2 linked regions of the Homo sapiens genome follow. The protein of the gene in region 1 purifies or fractionates together with the protein of each later gene. This does not show direct contact. Each region holds a gene or a part of one and is shown on either strand. Other genes may lie near its edges.

Evidence for each region. Proteins that work in one complex are often made in the same cells at the same time.
Region 2: the proteins of RNF170 (region 1) and ABCB10 purify together in Homo sapiens (affinity purification with mass spectrometry; 2 studies listed by BioGRID and IntAct, with this or other methods). This does not show direct contact.

What each region holds. Positions count from the first base shown.
Region 1 is NC_000008.11:42,858,603-42,862,107, reverse strand, and holds part of RNF170 (E3 ubiquitin-protein ligase RNF170), read left to right. Parts: intron 1-252; coding exon 253-363; intron 364-3,505. UniProt on the Homo sapiens protein: E3 ubiquitin-protein ligase that plays an essential role in stimulus-induced inositol 1,4,5-trisphosphate receptor type 1 (ITPR1) ubiquitination and degradation via the endoplasmic reticulum-associated degradation (ERAD) pathway.
Region 2 is NC_000001.11:229,545,208-229,548,712, reverse strand, and holds part of ABCB10 (ATP-binding cassette sub-family B member 10, mitochondrial), read left to right. Parts: intron 1-1,011; coding exon 1,012-1,214; intron 1,215-3,505.

The sequences.
Region 1 (3,505 bases):
CCCCTGGTGTGGACAGGAAAATATTAGGCCAGTAGTTGGATATGGTGTCTATTTTATAGGAGTTCAAATTCTATGTTGCATTGGATTTTATTGCAAAGCAGTTACTTACTCCCCTCCCCCAGGTTGCCTTTATTTAAAAATGAGTGAAATATAAATATAGAAGCCTTTATCATTCTATTGAATAATAACACAAAATGAAAAAAACATAATGATGCAGAAAGTTGAAATAATTTTTTTTTCTGTAATATACAGGTAACCTTACTCCTAACAGTATTTGGTGAAGATGATCAGTCTCAGGATGTTCTGAGATTGCATCAGGATATTAATGATTATAACCGGAGATTCTCAGGGCAACCCAGATCTGTAAGTAATGCTAAAGCATGTTCAAAGTTAGAGGAAGACACATTTCTTCTCTTTTGTAAAGTGAGGTTTACCAACAAGTATTCTTTGACTATGAGAAATCTTGGCCAGGCACAGTAGCTAACGCCTATAATCCTAGCACTTTGGGAGGCCAAGGCAGGTGGATCACTTGAGCCCAGGAGTTTGAGACCAGCCTTGGAAACATGATGAAACCCCATCTCTAGAAAAAACACCAAAAAATTGGACAAGAGTGTTGGCACATGCCTGTAGTCCCTGCTTCTTGGGAGGCTGAAATGGGAGGATCACCTGAGCCCAGGAGGTTGAGGCTATAGTGAGCCATGATCGCACTATTGCACTCCCACCTGGGTGGCAGTGAGACCCTTCCTCAAAAAACAAGAAAAGAAAAAGAAAAAAAAAAATCTCATTATATGTGTTGGGTCAAGTTTTTACCTTCATTGCTGCCAATCACTACATTACACCTTTCCCAAGGACTACAATTTTCTTTCTTAAAAAACAAACAGCATTATAAAAGTTTTTATGAAAGAGAAACTAGCAGAAAAGCAATAGAAAAAATTAGAGGGAAATAGAAAATTATTTACTTCTTTGTGATACTAAAACACCATTTGTCTTTTGAGAAAAGTTACAACTGAAAACTTTAAGTTTCACAGTTGTGGTTTATTCTATTTGCCCTAGCCCTGTTTGAAATGTTCCCTTAAAAAAATTCCAGGTTGGCTGGGGGCGGTGGCTCACGCCTGTAATCCCAGCACTTTGGGAGGCCGAGGCGGGTGGATCACCTGAGGTCAGCAGTTCGAGACCAGCCTGGCCAACACGGTGAAACCCTGTCTCTACTAAAAATACAAAAATTAGCTGAGTGTGGTGGCAGGCACCTGTAATCCTAGCTACTCGGGAGACTGAGGCTGGAGAATCACTTGTACCCGGCAGACAGAGGTTGCAGTGAGCCGATATCACGCCACTGCACTCCAGCCTGGGCGACGAGAGTGAAACTCCAAAAAATTCCAGGTTTAGGCCGGGCACAGTGGCTCACACCTGTAATCCCAGCACTTTGGGAGGCTGAGGTGGGCAGATCATTTGAGTTCGGGAGTTTGAGACCAGCCTGATCAACATGGTGAAACCCTGTCTCTACTAAAAATACAAAAATTAGCTGGGTATGGTGGTTTGTGCCTGTAGTCCCAGCTACTTGGAAGGCTGAGGCAGGAGAATCACTTGAACCCGGGAGGCAGAGGTTGCAGTGAGCTGAGATCACGCCACTGCACTCCAGCCTGGGCAACAGAGTGAGACTCCCGTCTCAGAAAAAAAAAAGTTTGGAGGGATATGTTTATATGTCATCTTAGCTATTTAAAAGCAGAACACTGTACAGATAACCTTTCTTCCCCTTACCCTAGAAGTATTTGATAAATCAAAAACTAGCACATTTTACTGACTCATTCTTGTTTTATCAAAATCTAACACATTCTTAGAAATGTAAAACTGAATAAGTACTTCAAAAACTAGAATGTACTAAATCCAAATTTATATGGACAGCCCAGACCTCTCCTCTGAGCTCCAGACTCTGTAGATCCAACTGCTTCGCTTCCATTTCAGCGTGGGTGCTCCACAGACATCCCTAACTTAACACGTGGAGTATTGAGCTGATTCCCTCCTTGACATAGTCTGTTCTTTTCTCAGTTTTGATTTCCTCCTCTTCTTCATTCCTCTCATCTGGTCTATAAGTAATCCTACCTTTTCTTTCTATTTTTGGGGTGTCCTATTATTTTTACTGCATCAACATATTCTTGCTGGCTGGGCACAGTGGCTCATGCCTGTAATCCTGGCACTTTGGGAGACTGAGGCAGGCAGATCACTTGAGCTCAGGAGTTTGAGACCAGCCTGGGCAACTTAGCAAGACTTTGTCTCTACCAAAAAATACAAAAATTAGTCAGGCACGGTGGTGTGCACCTGTAGTTTCAGCTACTTGGGAGGCTGAGGTGGGAGGACTGCTTGAGCCCGGGAGGCAGAGGTTGCAATGAGCCAGGATCACATCACTGCACTCCAGCCTGGGTGATCGAGTGAGACCTTGTCTCAAAAAGAACAAAAATGTCTTGGCTGTGTTGTTGTTGTTGTTTGAGACAGATTCTCACTCTTTCCCAGGCTGGAGTGCAGTGGTGTGATCACGGCTCACTGCAGCCTCAACCTTCCAAGCTCAGGCCATCCTGCCGCCTCAGCCTCCCAAGTAGCTGGGACCACAGGGGTGCATCACCACACCCGGCTAATTTTTTATAGAGACTGGGTTTTGCCATGCTGCCCAGGCTGGCCTTGAACTCCTGGGCTCAAGCAATCCACCCCCTCAGACTGCCAAAGTGCTGGGATTACAGGTGTGAGCCACCGTGCCCAGCCTGTGTCCACTTCTTTCAATCACTGTAGACATTGTGCTGGTCCAGCCCTGTCATCTCTGCTCACGGCAACCACAGTGGCCTCCTCACTTCTACTTTTTTCCCTGCCACAGCAGCCTGATACATGTTTTCTAGACATAAATGAGACCATGATGCTCTTGTGTTTGAAAACTTCTATTTTGTTTGTTTGTTTTGAGACAGGCTCGAGTGCGGTGGTGCAATCTTGGCTCGCTGCAACGTTTGCCTCCTGGGCTCAAGCCTTCCTCCCACCTCAGCCTCCCAAGTAGATGGGACTACAGGTGCATGCCACCACAACCCGGCTAATTTTTATATTTTTTGTAGAGATGGGGTTTCGCCATGTTGGCCAGGCTGTTCTCAAACTCCTGGGCTCAAGTGGTCCTCCCACCTCGGCCTCCCAAAGTGGTGGGATTACAGGCATGAGCCACCACTTGTGGCCCAATGTCTTTGAATGTTCCAACTCCTTACTGTGGCTTACAGGGCGCCACATGATCTGGTCCTCCCTCCCTCTCCAAATTTCTGTTAACCGCCTCAATCACCACCCTGCAGCCACCCTGCTCTATGCTCTCAGCACACACACAAACTCCTTCCACCTTAAGGCTGTCACACCTGACACTTCCTCTGCATGGAATGCTTGTCCTTCTGCTCTTATGGTGATTTCCCAGTCTTTAAATGACAACTATCTTAAGTAGACCCTCCTTGGAGAAGTTTTCCCTGCTCTGTGGCGCCCTCTGTAC
Region 2 (3,505 bases), on another chromosome or scaffold:
CCAGCATGGGGGACAGAGCGAGACTCCATCTCAAAAAAAAAAAAAAGAAAAAAAAAGAAAATGAGGCCCCTGGCCATGAAGCTGGACTTCTGAGGCTTCCTGAAGGCTTCAGAAACCCATTTACATGCCCCATGCTTGTGTTTCTCCTTAAGTAGCAGCTGGGATGATAACTTTGTTAGTATTTCTCTGAAGAGGTCTTGTTTTTACAGGCAGGTCACTGCCACAATAATGAGAGAACCTGGGACACCAACTCGAAGTCTGTTGCTCTCCATTTATCTCTGTGGATAATTAACCAATTCTTGCCATTTGAAGGTTCAATACAGGAAAGGGTTTCCAGGGAGGAACAAAATGAGCTTTTGGAAGTTAATGTAATAAAACTTCTTTGTAAATAATACCTTAAAAAAATCTCGGCCAAGTGTGGTGGCTCATGCCTGTAATCCTAGCACTTTGGGAGGCTGAGGCAGGAGGATTGCTTGAGCCCATGAGTTTGAGACCAGCCTGAGCTACATAGCAAGACTCCGTCTATATAAAAAATAAAAATAAGTTAGCTGGGTGTAGTGGCGGACATCTGTAGTTTCAGCTACCCAGGAGGCTGAGGTGGGAGGATGGCTTGAGCCCACAAGGTTGAGGTTACAGTGAACTGTGATCGTGCCACTTCATTCAGGCCTGGGTGATAGAGCAAGACCCAGTCTCTTAAAAAAAAAAAAAAAGTAAAAATAAAAAAGGCCTCTGAGTCATGTTATATTTATTTTATTCCTGTATCCTCTCACTAGCGCCCACAGTCTGTAGTTAATAAGAGAAAAGTAGTGTTAGTAGTGCATGACAGTTAATGTGCCTGGTTTGGGAAAGTCTCTTTCCACCCATGGGATACAGTGCAGCAGACACGCTCAGAGGCTGCATTGCTCAGGAGGGTTACAACTCCAGGCCAAGCTGCTGCACAGTAAGTGGCTGCCCCATAATGGTAATGGATGTCTTTACCCTTGGTGAGCCTGTTCGTGTTTGCTTTTGCAGGTCAGCGCATTGTGAATAGGCTGAGAACTTCATTATTCTCCTCCATTCTGAGGCAGGAGGTTGCTTTCTTTGACAAGACTCGCACAGGAGAATTGATTAACCGCCTCTCATCAGACACTGCACTCCTGGGGCGCTCAGTGACTGAAAACCTCTCAGATGGGCTCAGGGCCGGGGCCCAGGCTTCCGTAGGCATCAGTATGATGGTATGTGGGCCTGGTTCCCCTTGGTACCTTCCTGCCAGGGCTTGGCTTGCACCAGGCCTCTCACGTGTGAGACGAGCTCAAGCTGAGCGGTTCGCATCATTCTGTAAGTGCCTAGAGCCAAAAGTGCTGTTGCAGAAGCTGCTGGAACGTGGGGATTGCCTCTGCCTGCATGGCCTCTTGTACCTTCATTTCTCCAGAATGAGTGATTATCTGGAAAATGGACTCATGTGTTACTGCTGGGTATTCTGAGATGTGTGTACCCGGGGTATTAAGGCAGAAAAGAGCATCAGGTAGAAGGAGCACTGGGTACTACCCTGTGGGTGGCACCAAGCGGTGACTAAATTCCATTCCTCTGTGTGTGTAAGTCGAACTGTGCTCTTTTAAGGGGAGAGCTCTTCACTCCCATGGCCTTTTTTCCTTTCCTTAACTGGGTGGCTTGTGCCTGTCCTGTCTGCTTGCCTTACCTCTTCAACCAGTATTTCTATTCAGCCCAGTGCTGCAGGTCATTGGAGAGGCAATGCAAGCCACATATGTGATTTTAATGTTTTAGTAGCCACATTTAAAAAAGCAAAAAGAAGCCAATGAGATTAATTTTTTTTTTAATTTTAATTTTTTTAGAGACAGTCTCACTCTGTTACCCAGGCTGGAGTACAGTGGCAAGATCATAGCTCACTGCAGTCTTAAACTCCTGGGCTCAAGTGATTCTCCCACCTCAGTCTCCCAAGTATCTGGGACTACAGGCACACACCACCAAGTCTGGCTAATTTAAAGAATATATATATATATTTTTTGTAGAGGCAGGGTCTCTCTATGTTGCCCAGGCTGGTCTCAAACTCTTGGCCTCAAGTGATCCTCCTGCCTCGGCCTCCTGAAGTGCTGGGATTACAGGCTTGAGCCACTGTACCTGGCTGAGATTAATTTTAATAATGTTTTGTTTAAGCCAGTATAAACAAAATATTGTCATCTCAAGATGTAATTAATATCAAAATTATTAATGAGGTATTTTATATTATTTCTTTCATATTATAGTTGACCCTTGAACAATGCAGGGGTTGGGACACTGAAGCCCACACAGTCAAAAATCAAAGTATAACTTTTGACTCCCTAAAAACTCAACTACTAATAGCCTACTGTTGACCAGAAGCCTTACTGATAACATTAACAGTCAATTACCATGTATTTGGTATATGTATTATATACTATGTTCTTATAACAGAGTAAGCTAGAAAAAAGAAATGGTATTAAGAAAATCATAAGGAAGGTAAAATATATTTATTATTTATTAAGTGGAAGTGGATCATCATAAAAGCTTTTTTTTTTTTTTTTTGAGACGGAGTATCGCACTGTCATCCGGGCTGAAGTGCAATGGCACGATCTTGGCTCACTGCAACCTCCTCCTCCCGGGTTCAAGTGATTCTCCTGCCTCAGCCTCCCGAGTAGCTGGGATTATAGGTGCCAGCCACCACGCCTCGCTAATTTTTTTGTATTTTTAGTAGAGATGGGGTTTCACTATGTTGGCCAGGCTGGTCTTGAACTCCTGACCTCGTGATCTGCCTGCCTCAGCCTCCCAAAGTGTTGGGATTGCTGGCGTGAGCCACTGCGCCCGGCTCATCACAAAAGTATTTATCCTCATTGTCTTCACACTGAGTAGACTGAGAGGAGGAAGAAAGGTTGTTCTTGCTGTCTCAGGGGTGGCAGAGATGGAAGAAAATCTATGTATAAGTTGACCCATGCATTTCAGACCAATGTTGTTCAAAGGTCAACTGAATTTCCAAATCTGGTGTGTATTCTCTACTTAAGGAACATCTTAATTCGGATGCTAAATTTTCATTGAAAGTACTTGATCTATATTTAGATTTTATAAAATGTACAATTGAAAAAGTAGTTTGACATACTCAAGTTTTCCAGACATACTTAATAGTTTGCCAATAACTGAATGGAGTATAGGCTTTTAAATTTTAATTAAACCTAAATACAATTAAAAAGTCAATGTCTCAGTCATACCTGCCACATTTCAAGTTTCCAGTAGGGCTATCGTTTTGGGCAGTGCAGTTCTAGACTCGTGGAATAAGAACTGTAAATAATCCTTTCTCACAAGTGGAAAAGCTTGGATTCTGTCCTTTGTGTCCCATGAAGCACTTAGAGAGGAAGGGTGTGTTGCCTATTAGATCTGACTTACGGAATGAAAAACAGCTTTGAAATCTCATGATTTTCCAGCTAAGAGAGAAGCAAACCTCTGGAAGAGGACCCTTCCTGCACTAACATGCCGTTTTCCAAATATGAATAGTTTT